Homo sapiens: one gene and its partner. Each later gene encodes a partner of the first gene's protein in a complex. Each region holds a gene or a part of one and is shown on either strand. Other genes may lie near its edges. A codon is read from its position in the direction of its gene.

Region 1 (8,137 bases):
TACTCAACCTTTAATATTAAAAAAATTATTTATTCCATTCCCCTAAACTTTGAGCATAAAGCATCTATAGTCTTTTGAGAAGGAAAGCTGTAATAGAAAGCTTAGGCTGAACTCAACTTCTCTGTCACCATAACCCTGGGTCGATTTTCTAACTTGCTTCGTGATAAGCTTGTTCAGCACAGAAAGTATCTGACAAGATAAAGACAACAAAATACTGGGTTACTAGTTTCTGGTCATGGGCTCTATCACACCCCAAACAAGACTTTTAAAGGAAAATGAACTATGAAATCTTCAAGTTGTGTATCTCATATCTCTTTATAGGCAAGCACTATAAAAATGTGAATTTGAATATTATTTCATTGCAGGGCTTTTGTGATGCTTGTTTTCTTATAGAATGCAACAAAAATTTCATGGAAAGAAAGTCTAGTTTCTATTGAAGAAAAATATTTGACATTGAGATTTTAAAAATTTTGCCATTTACATTTATCATTATTTTTTCAATAATCTTGCACTCTCATATCCAGATTGTTTAAATAAGCATTTCTGCTTGCACAGCCCATTTGATGAAACATATTTATTATCAAGTTTATGTACTTGTATCACTATCGCACTCAGAGAAATATCAGGAGTCTCTGTATAACTCCTTATGATATATACAGTTCTTCATGTTTTAGGTGGAAGAGCATTGGAATGTTGACTTATCTAACTGGAAAAGTGGTTTGGAGGGTGTTGGCTCTTGGAGCATGAGGTTGCAATTAAGAAAAGCTGGAAATTGGCATACACGTCCTGAATCAAAATACACCTTCAGAAAGAGATGAGGACATTTTCACCTTATAATGCTGAGAAGTCTATACTGCTAAAGATAAAAATGGTGAAATGTAAATATTGGTTATGAAATTGAAAATTTTTATTTCCTGTACCACTGAAGTTATTTTGTATAAACGGTATTGTCCAGCCTTCTTTTATCAAGATTTGAATGTTGTTATTTTGGTTTTCCTCGGAGTACTAAGGGCAGGGACTTTGCTTTGCTGATCCCAAATCCCCAGAACTGTGCTTAGCAAACACTGGGTATTAAAAAAAAAAAAAAGAGAGACAGTTGTTGACTGAATAAATAGATGAATGGATAAATAATGTTTGCATTTAAGAATTACGATTTCCAATGGCAAGAGAGGTATTGCTAGTACAAGATTTTCCTTTAGAACATAAAAAGAGAAGATAATGGATCTCAATTAAGTTGTTTATAAAGAAGCCTGCTTCATAATCAATGTTTTTTTTAAGTCATGTAGGCATACTTATTACATTTGGCAATACAGAAACATCAGATTTTGCAGAACTATCTCTTTAGGTGTAAGATTATATTAAAGAATTAATATGATACAAGAATTATGAATACAGGTTTAGGAAAAAACAGAAAAGAACCCCAACCAGTAAAAAAAAAATTAAAGTATAACATTAAAAAACATCAAAATTGTAAATATTGTGTAGAAGAAAAACTAAATGATTAACCTGAATGGTTATGGTATTGCTGATAAATGCATCATCTTGACTCCTAGGAGAACCAATTTATGTGAAATTCCATGAAAAAGAATTAGTTACAACAAGCAGAATTTTAGTCCATTTCCAAGAATTTTAACTACTGTAAATCACCTGACACACTTCCCAATAATTAGGATATCGTTTTGCATAGCCACATGGGAACCTGGCCTAGAGGTCTATAGGTAATCTGTTTCATTCATGTATTTTAAGTATGTCGTTTAGGAATAAGTTATCAGGTTTGCAACCTATAAGCAAAGGAAATAATGTGACACTGGAAAACAACACTATTCATTTAACATAATGAATTGCCATGTAATAACTCAGATCTTCCCAGGGTGTAAATTACACAAATTTGAAAGATGCATTTATTATTTAATGCCTCATTCCCAGACAGTTGCTTACTCAGTAGCAAAATCTGTCTTAGCATACCAAGTGTAAAGCTATTTAACAAATAGGAAGGTTTAAAAAATATATACTATCATGCAGACAGCTAAAATATTTGTATATATTTTTAATCTTTTTTCTCTAATGATACTTAGAATATTTTATTTTTATTACTACAAATAATAGAGATGAAATATGAATTGTATTAGTAGCAGAGATATATGAGCTAAAGCTTGTATTGTTTAAAGCACATCATCTTAAAAGGCCTGTCAGGAAACAGTGTTCATATTAAGTTGGCTTTCAGTACTCTAAGAAGATGACATCATTTTGTAAGAGACAAGTGTTGTTAGAGCAAATGCTAGGATATTCTAAAATTTCCTAGGTTGAAGTGAAGAAATTTCTCATTATAGATTATTTCATGAGTTTATGTTCCCGGTTGTATATCAGCTCATGTTAAATTTTGCAAGAGTTTATGATTTCTAAGAACTCACCTTCTATAAGGCCCTTTGCTGAGTGGGGCTAGTTAGGAATTAGTAAGTAAAGGGGATCTTTTTTCCTCGTGTAAATAGCTTAAGAGTAATTTTGGGCGGTCCAGAAACCATAAGTTATCAGGAAGGTGCTTATAAATGGGCAGAGTACATCACTTGCCCAAGATTCTAACAACCTAGCCTGCCCCCCACACACTGTGGGGCACCGTTTGCTACTTGCCAAGTAACTGCCTTTTTTGGCAAAGACCACCCAGGACATGGCTCAGAGTCCATCCTAAGGCTGGCCAACCTCTGTAAATCTCGTGTCCCCTGATTCAGAGCGAGTGCATTTAATTCAGGAAGATCACTTACGACTGAGTTTTTCATCATGGCTTTGACTGTGAAACCCTCAGAAACCAGAGAGTGAGGCTGGTGCACCGGGAGCGGCTGTTGTGCCAGCAGCTTGGTCCTCTTCGGCATCTTGTCTGGGCATTTGTTTAAGCTCAGGGTCTCTTTTTCTGCCACCATCTTCCTAGAAAATGTCTTGTTCTCATAAAAAGTGTAGTAAAAGAATCAGTGGGCTTTACGGATGTGAGCAGGAGGTCTGGAAAAAAATATCAAAAGGCGCGATAATGGTAGAAATTCAACCCCTCGTAGTGCCCAGGTTGATCCAGATGTTTGGCAGCTCCTAGGTGAAGGGAGCTGGACCCTAGGGGCGGGGCGGGAAGAGGGCAGGACCTTGGCTAGAGCTGCAACAAGCTTCCAAAGGTAAGCCTCCCGGTTGCTAAGCGACTGGTCAACACGGCGGGCGCATAGCCCCGCCCCCCGGTGACGTAAGATTGCTGGGCCTGAAGCCGGAAAGGGCGGCGGTGGGGGGCTGGGGGCAGGAGGCGTGAGGAGAAACTACGCGTTAGAACTACGACTCCCAGCAGGCCCTGGGCCGCGCCCTCCGCGCGTGCGCATTCCTAGGGCCGGGCGCGGGGGCGGGGAGGCCTGGAGGATTTAACCCAGGAGAGCCGCTGGTGGGAGGCGCGGCTGGCGCCGCTGCGCGCATGGGCCTGTTCCTGGCCCGCAGCCGCCACCTACCCAGTGACCATGATAGGTACGTGGGTACCTGCCAGGTACAGCCTCTCTGCGCCGCCCCACGCCCCGGTATGGCGCCACGCCCCGCCTCGGCCGACCAGGACCCCCGGTGCCAACTGTCAATGACGGGGCCAAAGTGCCCGTGCCGTCCCCGGCCCGCGCCGCCGGGCTCCCCAGCTCAGCGACGCGGGTCCGGGGCCCCAGTGTGTGCGTTCGAAGCCCTCGCCTGCCCGCCCCTGCTCTGAGCGTTCTCATGAAGACCGCCTCGACGGGGACGCCAGGCGGCCCCGCACCCCCGCTCCTCGTTCGCGGTCCCCCGGACCGTGTGGGGTCCCGAAGCCTTCTCCCCGCCGCCGCCCCTCACCTTCGCCCCGCCGCCGCCCCTCACCTTCGCCCCTCACCTCACTGGCCGGTTGTGGTGCGGTTCAGGACCCATCGAGACCCACTCTCTGTGGGGCTCTTTCAGGAAACCGCAGCAAAGCATTAAACTCTAATGGAAGGCACCTGGTGAGGGTGGCTGGCTCCACAGAAACTCCTCCAGATAGATCTAAACTTGCTCCCTCGGATGTTTCCTTTTAAACTTCTCATTGGAGGGCTGAGATGAAAGAAACATTAAGAGTAAATAGTAGCCAAGATTAAATCTATTGCCTTTTGCAAAATAACCTTTCTTTTTTTTTTTTGTAAAAGAACGACCGAGGTGCAAGTTTGTGAACGAAACTTAGTGGCATCAGAGTTGTTCATGAACACTTGATGTGTAAGATGAGCAAAGGTCCTCTCTTCCAGGGTTGTTGAGCCAAAAGTTACTTTAGGGGCTATCCCTGAAAATTAATGGAAATGCACCATATGTTTGAAAAACAGTGCTAGATGGGGTTTCATTATTGTGGAGGTTTCTCCAGGTTATGTATGGAGGGTTTAGTGAGCTTGTTTATTCCTGAGGAGGGTCCTTTACAAAACACTTTTGATTGCAGTAAGTACGTTCGAAGTCAGATGTGGTCTGTCCAGAAGAAAGATGAGAGGTGGATTTATAAAGTATATGATCTTTATGCACTGAAAACACTTCTTACATCTGTTTATTTGTGAAGTTATTGTTAAAATGTAAACATTCTCCCCATCAGTGGGAGAATCAAGCCAGCTAACTGGCATGGTCTTTGTGGTAAAACAAGAATGTTGTCCAACTTTTCTTCCCTTTCTAGCATGGTCTGACTTTTGGTGAATGACTTGAAAGTTAATCAAATTACGAAAAAAATATTTTTTATGAGTCTTCTTGAGCTCTTTTTAGGTGACATTTACGTAAGATTCACTTGCAAGCACAAGTTTGAACTGAATCAGAAAACCAAGTAGAAGAGATTTTCCAATATCTGTGCTGTCAGTCTACAGGAAGAAAATAGCCTATACCTTATTTTGAAGACAGTTAAATACATTTTATTTTAATTTAACTTAATCTAGTGCACAGATAATTTTAAGAGAAACAAATTTATTGTAAAGCTATATAAAGACAAGCACTTAAGATCTAAAGAACATTACTCAGTTATAAGTTATGACCTAATAAGTGATTATATAAATAACTTTATTAGGATGAAATGTGTTTGGACAGTTCTGTTTAGTTTTATCTGGAATTCTTCCAATAAGGAAGAAATATCTTTGGAGTTGATGATTAAACAGTTATCAATTACTGGTAATGACATGGAGAATATAAGGTTGGTTTTTAAAAGTGTTATTTCTCTCACTCCAGCCATGGTTTTACATAGTGCAAATAAGTGTGCAGTACAACATAAATGATTAAATCCATGCCTGCTTTCCCTAGGAAATGTGCCTTACATATAAGATCATGGACAATGTGCAATAAAATATTCAACTAGTTGCATTGCCTAATTCTGAAATTAGACACACGTCTTTTTTTTTTTTTTTTCCTCTTTTTGAGACAGGTTCTGTCTCTGTCACCCAGGCCGGAGTGCAGTGGCACCATCACAGCTCACTGCAGCCTCCAACTCCTGGGCTCAAGTGATCCTCCCATCTCAGCCTCCTGAGTAGCTGTGACTACAGGTGTGTGCCACCATGCCTGCCAATTTTTTGTTATAGTTTTTGTAGAGATGGAGTTTCATAATGTTGCCCAGGCTGGTCTCAAACTCCTGGGCTCAAGCAATCCTCCCGCATTCGCCTCTGAAAGTGCTGGGATTACAGGCATGAACCACCACGCCCAGCCTCATTAGCCACATTTCAGTAAACATCTGAATGGTCAGTTTGGGATTTGGGTGTCGTGAACAGTGCTAAAGGTAGGTGAAAGTGAAAACCATTAAAAGGAAGCCTTGGAGTGATGGGTTTTGTGTTTTTGTGACAAAAATTCAGAGCCAGGAAAGACATTATAGACTTTATCCAGTGATCACTAAAATGTAAATAGTATGTATCTGGGATTTTCTGTTAAAGGTAAGAGTGCTTCTCAAAGCTTGCTCCTTTCAGGCCTATGCTTTCTCTAACTATTACACTCACCTTGTTGCGGGATTCGGGAGTATGAGGGAGACCTCAGGTTGAAGCAGGAGAATCTTTATTGAGTGTACTCAGGCCCAGCTGACTCACATCCAAAAGACTGGGCCCAGAATAAAGACAGTACTTGACTTTTATACACACTTCACAAACGGAGGTGGGCTAGCTTGAAGCAAGCTTACAGTGGCGTGAAAGCAGGGATACAGAGGCAGGACAAAGACAGGATTGCAGATGACCATTGCCAAGCAACCCAGATGTTCGTTTTCTAGGTTTGCCTGGGCACAGGCTTATCCTATAACCTTCTCTGTGGTGCCCAGGCAGCTGTAGTTCAGGCCTACTCAGGCTTTTTATGACCTTCGTTGTACTACTTAGATAAAACAGAATACTTGAAATCACTAGTTACAGAGAACAAGAGTCTATAAACTCATTCTGTAAAACAAAGGAAAATTTGTTTTTCTTCTCCCTGTGTTGAGGGAGTGCTGAGAGAGTCTCCAGAGCATATTAGATAATATTATCAAGACTTTTCCTGGGTCTAGGCTGTGCCTGTTGCTGCTTCTGGAACAAGTTAGCCTAAAACAGGAAAACTTATTTCTCTTTCTTTTTAATTTTATTGTTCTTTAATTTCCCGCCTCAACCTTACTGCGAATAATATTCTGCCACTTTATTTAAATCCTGGCTTAGTTTAAGGAGAAACGTAAAGATGGGTTTCCTGGTAGAATAGGAGTAAACAGGACTGACTGTGACCTCACTGCTAATGACATGTACCTTCCTTTTACTTTCTCAAAACCGAAGATTCCCTTATTGGCATGAGGACTGTTTCAAAAGTACTTACATTTCCCACCTGCATTGTGATTGATGTGTTGAATGCCCTGACCCAGGCAGCTACAGAAACATAATTTAATTGAAGTCGGTTAAAAATTGTGCCTTTGTGGAAAGTGTGGAGAAGGACTTCAAGATGATATAAAGCAGAATAGAAAAGCTTAAAAGAATTCAATTTAGAAAAATGTAATTTTTGGTACCTCTATTAAAAATATATTTTGACTTTTTTAAAAATGAGCAATTCTTTGTGTTTAAAATGGAATGTTAGTGGGGATATTTGTGGTATGTTCTAAATGTTCTGTAGAACTGGATTTAGGTATTTGAGTAACAGCAGATATTAGAGTGCATGGTTATATATACAACAATGTTGTCAGTATTGAAATACACATTCAGTGTCTTAGACTTTTAAGAAGATTTTTGATTGACAAAAACCATTCATTGGAACATAGTCTCTTCTATACCTTGTTTCACTTAGCATCTCTTTGAGAATTTACATATCTGCATGTCCAGATCCACTCCACAGCGATTCCTGCCTAGTCTTTTATAGGATACACTAATTATGAAAATATTTACCAATAAATAAGCACTCATTAGGTTTACAGACAACTGTTGTCAGAAGTGTTTGTGGCCATATCTTTTTACTTGCACATGTAAGCATAGATGTAAAATAAAAATCGTATGACAATTTGAGTTAAAGAGTTTGTAGATTTTACATTTTCCTAGGTATTTCAAAATTTTTCCAAAATAAGTTGCCCAATTTTACAAGCCTATCTAAAGCCTCCACTAATACAACATGGTAGTAAAGAGCTGCCCTGCCCCTCTGGGCTGAAAATTGCCAAAAGACGTCCTTCCTGAGACTGACTCAGCTTTCACTAGCAGAACGCCTCCTGGATCTCCGGTCCCCCACCTCTCTCTCACCCTAGGGGTAGTGCCTTTCAGTGTACAAGCTGCACAACTGTCCTTGGTGGCCCTGCCCTCCCTTTCAGTGTGTATAAGAGTGCCCATTTCCTCCCATGTGCCATCGAAGATTTTTTATTTTTGCCGTCTTGACAGATGAAAAACAGTATCTTTTAACTTTTCAAATTAATTTAGAAGAAAACTTCTCATTCTCATCTTATAGTGCGTTAGTTTTGCAAAAGCAGATCCAGTGATTCCAGCACCTGCTATGTACCCTTAACTGCTCTAGGTGCCAGGGAAACGAGGGAACACAACAGAAAAAGTCCCTTGCCATCAGGAATGTATATTCCGACTTCACCATTTGGCTACACATCTGCATATTTGTTTTCAAGCTTGTGTGCAGTGAATTTTAAAGTCTCAATTTATATTTCTAGTTGAATATACTGTGTACTGCTCTTTGCCCTGCCATT
Region 2 (7,194 bases), on another chromosome or scaffold:
GACACTTCTCTGCAGGGCTGGGCCACGGCAGGTGCTCAGCTCCCAGAACCCACCAGGAAGCCAGTCTCACCCGCCAGGCTGGGGCACACTGAGGCCTCCCACTGCCACGGAGAATGAGACCCTGTCCCGGGAAGGCCTGTCCGTGGGGTGGGCCCAGGAGGGCGGACAGCACCCATGGGGAGGACTTGGGGGCCAGGGGGCCCTCCCTCTGCTGTGTGGTCGGGTTTCCACACAGGAAGGCTTGTCTGCCAGCCAATGGGTAACTGGACACCTAGGAAGTTGAGGGGGGGCTCCTGCCACCTCTAGCCCAGAGCTGCCCACAGCCCTAACCCAACCCCCACTCCCGCCAAGGGAAGAAAGCCTTGGGTTACCCCAGAACTGGAGCATTCATTCAGGCACACAGAGACGGGTGGGTGAGGGGACGGTCCCATCAGGGACAGGTCTAGTTTGCTCATTTGAGTCTGCTGCTGTGGCCAGTCACGTTCTCCCTTCCAGAACTGCAGCCCTGTTGGGGGGCAGCTCTCTTCCCAGAGCCTCCCAGGATTGCCTGGTCAGACCCCACTAGGGGATAGAGGTGCAGCCACTCAGGAAGATGAGGCCTGAGGGGGCCCCACGGCCACTTCTCCTCTGTGGCTCTGTTCTTTTCTGCCCTCAGTTTCCCTTTGCCCCTGCTCATGACCCCCAGACCCTCTGTGCCCTTGGCCCCCAGTCTTCCCTGGGTCCTCTGCCCCAGCCACCCCTCAAACTCTTAGGCCTCCTGGGCCTTGGTTTCACCTACCGAGGGAGGTGACCACCTGCTCTGGGAGCCAGGGGTGCCTCAGGGGTGGGCTCCAGTGAGAATGGGACCCCCAGCAGCTAGAGCTTTGGTTCTCACAGCCCTGTGATTCTAGGACGCCCCTGTGGACCTGACATCAGCCTCATAGAACCGTCTGGCACCCCTGTAGGGGACAAGCCTGGCTAGCTCCCTGGGGAGCCTGAGGGGCCGGGGAGCTCCCCTGTCCTTTGGGGGGGGATCAGTGAGGCCCTTGTGGAGAGAGGGAGGAAGCACCCCATGCACCTGTCCTTCCAGGGCAGGTGAGGCCTCCCACAAAGGCTGGGCGTCTGGTCCTTTAAGGCAGCCAATACTGTCTGCCTGCTGTCCCTGCCTGGCGGTAACACACCCTCCCACTGGGACCATGGCCACCAGTAAACAGAGCCTTCGTTGTGGATCCTCCGACAGCTGCAGGAGGAGGAGGGCAGGTGCCCAGCACTCCCACAGCCACGCCTGCCCCGCTTCCCTGCCCTTCTGGCCCTCCTTGGACCACATCCTGCCTGGCCACAGACCCCAGGCCCAGGAGTTGGTCCTCCTGCCCCACACTATCCCGCCTCTCCATCCTGCAGCAGGGCACCTTGGCTCAGGGTGGGACCTACAGAGCCTTCCCCAACCAGTTTTGTGCAACAGGGGTGGCTGCTGTCCTTGTTGGGCTCAGGCCCAGGCTTCAGGGTGTCTACTGCTGTCTTGTCCCCAGCCAGTGTCCACCTCACCAGGGCAATGCAAGGGCAAAGTAGGCAAGCTGGTGCCATGGCGAGCTCTGGGGCTCTCACCTGGGCAGGTGACACCTGTGAAACGGGTGGCACACTGACCTCCCAGCCCTGTGGGCACTGGTCACAGGAAGCAGGGGCCTTTACTGGAGAGGGGTTGGGAGACTCTGACAAGGTGCAGGAATGCCACACACCTCAAAGAGCAGCCTCAGTTGGGCTCTGCACAGTTCACTGAGGAAAAAAACAGAGCTTCTCCTTCTCCCCTTTGTGACAACTCAATGTTATGAGACTCCAACATGTCCCTGACTACTGCCTGGACAGCTGAGCTACTCTGCAGGACCCCAGGATGCCCTGGGCACTAGGAGAAACCTGGGATGGCTGGCAGCAACCTGTGCACCCCTCAGGCCGCTGCAGGACCCCAGTCCCTCTGAGGGTCAAGGCCTGTGTCACAGTGGTCACTGGAAGCCAGGCCCGCCTTCCTGGGCTGATCTGTGGGGGAGGCCACCCTCCTGGACAGGATGGCAAACTGGCAACAGACCCCCGAGGAGTGAGCACAGCTGCAGGCCCTCGCCCCAGAAGGACAATGCTGATCCCCGCGCATGCTCCGGTGCTGCGTGTCCCGAGTTCTGGTATCGCGCATTATGTGGTGAAGACAGAGGTGCAGTCCCTCCAGGAAGAGAGAAATAAATAAGCAGATGTTGTTTCCAACAGCCTCCAATTGGGAGACAGATGCCCAGTGGCCAGAGCACAGGAGACTGTCAGGGCCGACCTGATGGTGTAATTTATTTAAAATGCTACAAAAATACAGCCAGGTGCAGTGGCTCATGCCTGTAATCCCAGCACTTTGGGAGGCCGAGGCGAATGAATCACAAGGTCAGTTCCAGACCAGCCTGGCCAAGATGGTGAAACCCCATCTCTATTAAAAATACAGAAATTAGCCGGGCGTGGTGGCGGGCGCCTGTAATCCCAGCTACTCGGGAGGCTGAGGCAGGAGAATCGCTTGAACCCGGGAGATGGAGGTTGCAGTGAGCCGAGATCATGCCACTGCACTCCAGCCTGAGCGACGGAGCCAGACTCTGTCTCAAAAAAAAAAAAAAAAAAAAATAGCCAGGCGTGGTGGTGCACACCTGTAGTTCCAGCTACTTGGGAAGGTGAGGCAGGCGAATTGCTTGAACCGGGGAGGCAGAGGTTGCAGCGAGCTGAGATTGCGCCACTGCACTCCAGCCTAGGCGACAAGAGCAAAACTCCATCTCAAAAAAAAAAGAAAAAAGCTACAAAAATGTAGAAGGCACGGCGGCTCATTCCCGTAAATCCGAGCACTTGGGGAGGCCGAGGCGGGCGGATCACTTGAGGTCAGGAGTTTCAGACCAGCTTGGCCAACATGGTGAAATCCCATTTCTACCAAAAATACAAAAATTAGCGGCGTGGTGGTGGGTGCCTGCAGTCCCACCTACTGGGGAGGCTGAGGCAGAAGAATCGCTTGAACCTGGGGGGGGGCGGGGAGCCAAGATCGCGCCACTGCACTCCAGCCCGGGAGACAGAGCGAGACTCTGTCTCAGAATAATAAATTAAGTAAAATAAAAATGCTGCAAAAATACAGCCCGTTTGTTTTTAAACAGGCGCAACCACATGTAATTCATTTTAAGTTTCTTTTCCCACCCAAGTAAAAATCAAGTCATAAATTAGGAAAAGCATTAACAGAAGTATGTTTCAGCCCCAGCGCGCTGACCTGTGGTTGGAATACCGGCCCTGGAGCCCGGAGGTCGGGGCCCACCCGCCGAGGGAGGTCTGGGCGCTGTCCTGGTCTCCACGGAGCTCGCGCACTCACGGGGCCGAGGCACCAAGGCGACCGGCGCAGAGCCAGCGCCGTCTCCACAACAGGGCAGGGCGCGCAGCTGCGGGGGAGGCCTCGCCCCTCCGCTCCCCTCCCCTGCCCTCCGCCCCGGCCCTCGGGGCGCGGCGTCCCCCACGTGCTCCCCTCACGCGACCGCGAGGGCAGTGGGCGTGCGGCACCCGGGAGCAGGAAACTCCGTGGCCTCTGCGGCTCTGTGGAGAGCTCCCCTCCACCGCCGCAGCCCCCGAGCCCGTGTATCTTCCTGCCTTTAAGGCATCGCAGCCTCCTCGGCCTGGAGGCCCCGGGCTCGCTCCGTGCGGACCCCGCTCCAGAACCCGCCCAGCGCGCAGATGCCGTGTCCCGGCGCAAGGCCAGAGAGGGCGCAACTCTGGACGTGGGGCCGCCACCGAGCCTGCCCTTCCCGGCTCCCGAAAGGCCCCGGGCTCAGAGCCAAGACTGCGCTTGCCCGAGGCCCGTCGGGCCCGCCCTCCCTCGGCGCCCCCAGCGCAGCTGCCCGCCGCCCGACCGGAAGCCCGCACTCGCGCCTGCGCCCCACCCCGTCCGCGCGCCGGCCGCGGCACTGCGGCGGTTACCAGGACGCTGAAGCAGCGCAGCCAATAGCGCCAGCCTGGCGGCGTGCTCCCGGCAGCCAGCCAATGAGACGGCAAATCAATCATTTGAAACACCCAATGGACGGAGCACTGCGGCGCCAGGAGGGGGATTGTGATAGGGAGATAGGAGGCTGCGGCTGACCAATAAAGACCAAACTGGCTTAAAAAGGCGGACCTTAGGCAGCTTGATTGACGGGGGCAAGGCCAATCAAACGAGGGAGCTTGCCAGCCTCGTTCTGGCAGCCCATTCCGAGACTAGCGGAGGCGGGCAGGGAGGGTATATAAGCGTTGGCGGAGCGTCGGTTGTAGCACTCTGCGCGCCCGCTCTTCTGCTGCTGTTTGTCTACTTCCTCCTGCTTCCCCGCCGCCGCCGCCGCCATCATGAGGGAAATCGTGCACTTGCAGGCCGGGCAGTGCGGCAACCAAATCGGCGCCAAGGTAAGTTGCCGGGGCGCTGGGGCCAGGCGGGCCTGCCGGGCGGTGTGGGCGGGCGGCCGGGGAAGATGGCGGCAGCAGCGGCCGGGCGGCGCCCCCGCATTGCGGCCGCCGGGCCCCCTCCGCGGGGAATTGGCCGAGCCGGGCGACCGAAGCCCCCAGGAACCCGGCGGCCAGGGCGCGCGGGGCGGGGGAGGGGCGGGGAGGGCCGGGCTGCCGCGCCCGTCCGGGGCGGGGCTGCCTCCCTGCGCACCGGCCGCGGTGACTCAGCCCCGGCCCGCCCGGGCCCGCCCGCGTCCCTTGTAGTTTTGGGAGGTGATCAGCGATGAGCACGGCATCGACCCCACGGGCACCTACCACGGGGACAGCGACCTGCAGCTGGAACGCATCAACGTGTACTACAATGAGGCCACCGGTGAGGCCCCGGCCCCTTCCCCGACCGCCCTCCGGGGACCCCGCGGCCCCTGCCTTGGCTGACGCCCTCCCGTCCCCGCAGGCGGCAAGTACGTGCCCCGCGCCGTGCTCGTGGATCTGGAGCCCGGCACCATGGACTCCGTGCGCTCGGGGCCCTTCGGGCAGATCTTCCGGCCGGACAACTTCGTTTTCGGTGAGCCGTGGCTGGGGACTGGGCGGCGGCTCAAAGGTCAAGGGGCTGCTCCAAGGGCACCGCCGTGGGAACTGCGCAGCCGGGGCCCCTGGACGCCCTCCTCTTCTCTGAGCCACTCAATCCCCTCTACTAAATCGGCTTTGGGAGCAAGGTCCAGCTGTCTGCCGAGGCGAGGAGCCGCCACACACGTAATCTCCCTGCAGGGAGCTGAGCTGGGGCAGTGGCTGTTCCTCTGTCCTTGGGAATTGGCAGTGGCCCCCCCGGGGAGGGGTTTGTTAAGCTGTCAGGTTTGGCCCCTGACTTAATTCGTAGCAGGGCAGGCTGCCGTCTTTTGGCTTTGAAGGGTCCGTTTGCTCTACCTCCAGGGTGAATTCTGTGGTCAGCTCACACCATGTCACTCGGCTTTTTTCGCATGGCGGTGACCAGTAGTGCTGTCTACCTGGCTGACAAATGATTAGCTGTGTTCTCTCACAGGTCAGAGTGGTGCTGGGAACAACTGGGCCAAGGGGCACTACACAGAAGGCGCGGAGCTGGTGGACTCGGTGCTGGATGTTGTGAGAAAGGAGGCTGAGAGCTGTGACTGCCTGCAGGGTTTCCAGCTGACCCACTCCCTGGGTGGGGGGACTGGGTCTGGGATGGGTACCCTCCTCATCAGCAAGATCCGGGAGGAGTACCCAGACAGGATCATGAACACGTTTAGTGTGGTGCCTTCGCCCAAAGTGTCAGACACAGTGGTGGAGCCCTACAACGCCACCCTCTCAGTCCACCAGCTCGTAGAAAACACAGACGAGACCTACTGCATTGATAACGAAGCTCTCTACGACATTTGCTTCAGAACCCTAAAGCTGACCACGCCCACCTATGGTGACCTGAACCACCTGGTGTCTGCTACCATGAGTGGGGTCACCACCTGCCTGCGCTTCCCAGGCCAGCTCAATGCTGACCTGCGGAAGCTGGCTGTGAACATGGTCCCGTTTCCCCGGCTGCACTTCTTCATGCCCGGCTTTGCCCCACTGACCAGCCGGGGCAGCCAGCAGTACCGGGCGCTGACCGTGCCCGAGCTCACCCAGCAGATGTTTGATGCCAAGAACATGATGGCTGCCTGCGACCCCCGCCATGGCCGCTACCTGACGGTTGCCGCCGTGTTCAGGGGCCGCATGTCCATGAAGGAGGTGGATGAGCAAATGCTTAATGTCCAAAACAAAAACAGCAGCTATTTTGTTGAGTGGATCCCCAACAATGTGAAAACGGCTGTCTGTGACATCCCACCTCGGGGGCTAAAAATGTCCGCCACCTTCATTGGCAACAGCACGGCCATCCAGGAGCTGTTCAAGCGCATCTCCGAGCAGTTCACGGCCATGTTCCGGCGCAAGGCCTTCCTGCACTGGTACACGGGCGAGGGCATGGACGAGATGGAGTTCACCGAGGCCGAGAGCAACATGAATGACCTGGTGTCCGAGTACCAGCAGTACCAGGATGCCACAGCCGAGGAGGAGGGCGAGTTCGAGGAGGAGGCTGAGGAGGAGGTGGCCTAGAGCCTTCAGTCACTGGGGAAAGCAGGGAAGCAGTGTGAACTCTTTATTCACTCCCAGCCTGTCCTGTGGCCTGTCCCACTGTGTGCACTTGCTGTTTTCCCTGTCCACATCCATGCTGTACAGACACCACCATTAAAGCATTTTCATAGTGTGTGGTTTCGCTTTGCCCATTCCTTCCAGTAGGCCCTCCGGGTGCTGTTGCCGAATGTCAGGGCGTAGTTGTCCTGCATGGCTGCGGGGAGCCAGGCTGCAGCTGAGCTGGGCTTATGTGCCCAGGACCAGCATGGGCTGGACACCCAGGCTTCAGAGAAGTGTGGGGCTGCCCTGGGCCCTGGGTATCTGCTTGGTGGGGAACTTGCTTGTTGAAGGCAGGCCTGTCCTGTTCCAGGTACCCAACCTTGGGGCTCGGCCTGTGTCTGGGACTTAGGTGGGTCCAGTGACCCCCCTTCCAAAAGGGGTAGGGAGGATGGCAGACAATCCTACCCCAACCAAGGTGGGACCCTGGTAATGGTCAGACAGGTGGTCCTGAACCAGCAATGAAGGGTGAGCAGGTAGAGCCGTCCCTCCCCACATTGGCCGGGGTGTGTCCATGTGACCCTGCCCACTCTACTCACCGGGGATGAACCCCATGTAGAAGGGGATCAGGCCTTG

Evidence for each region. The genes of interacting proteins can lie anywhere in the genome.
Region 2: the proteins of PACRG (region 1) and TUBB4B are in contact, whole or in part, in a cryo-EM structure (PDB 7UNG), measured with the Homo sapiens proteins. Residues at the interface, in NP_689623.2 of Homo sapiens: Glu40, Gly41, Phe42, Thr43, Val44, Ala46, Met47, Met48, Val53, Arg54, Gly55, Pro56, Pro57, Ala58, Ala59, Gly60, Ala61, Phe62, Arg65, Lys154, Arg160, Arg162, Arg191, Gln192, Pro195, Asn198, Ile199, Phe200, Asn202, Met203; in NP_006079.1 of Homo sapiens: Glu194 (codon at 5,785), Phe260 (codon at 5,983), Pro261 (codon at 5,986), Arg262 (codon at 5,989), Gln291 (codon at 6,076), Phe294 (codon at 6,085), Asp295 (codon at 6,088), Ala296 (codon at 6,091), Arg306 (codon at 6,121), His307 (codon at 6,124), Gly308 (codon at 6,127), Arg309 (codon at 6,130), Tyr310 (codon at 6,133), Val333 (codon at 6,202), Lys336 (codon at 6,211), Asn337 (codon at 6,214), Ser339 (codon at 6,220), Tyr340 (codon at 6,223), Phe341 (codon at 6,226), Gln375 (codon at 6,328), Ser413 (codon at 6,442), Asn414 (codon at 6,445), Asp417 (codon at 6,454), Ser420 (codon at 6,463), Gln423 (codon at 6,472), Gln424 (codon at 6,475), Tyr425 (codon at 6,478), Gln426 (codon at 6,481), Asp427 (codon at 6,484), Glu432 (codon at 6,499).

Annotation. Positions count from the first base shown.
Region 1 is NC_000006.12:162,723,014-162,731,150, reverse strand, and holds the start of PACRG (parkin coregulated gene protein), read right to left. Parts: upstream 3,178-8,137; 5' UTR 2,916-3,177; coding exon 2,760-2,915; intron 1-2,759. UniProt on the Homo sapiens protein: Microtubule inner protein (MIP) part of the dynein-decorated doublet microtubules (DMTs) in cilia axoneme, which is required for motile cilia beating. Suppresses cell death induced by accumulation of unfolded Pael receptor (Pael-R, a substrate of Parkin).
Region 2 is NC_000009.12:137,237,014-137,244,207, forward strand, and holds TUBB4B (tubulin beta-4B chain), read left to right. Parts: upstream 1-4,273; 5' UTR 4,274-4,347; coding exon 4,348-4,404; intron 4,405-4,707; coding exon 4,708-4,816; intron 4,817-4,897; coding exon 4,898-5,008; intron 5,009-5,482; coding exon 5,483-6,543; 3' UTR 6,544-6,686; downstream 6,687-7,194. Other genes in the region: CIMIP2A (ciliary microtubule inner protein 2A), read right to left, coding at 6,687-6,775, 7,158-7,194. UniProt on the Homo sapiens protein: Tubulin is the major constituent of microtubules, a cylinder consisting of laterally associated linear protofilaments composed of alpha- and beta-tubulin heterodimers.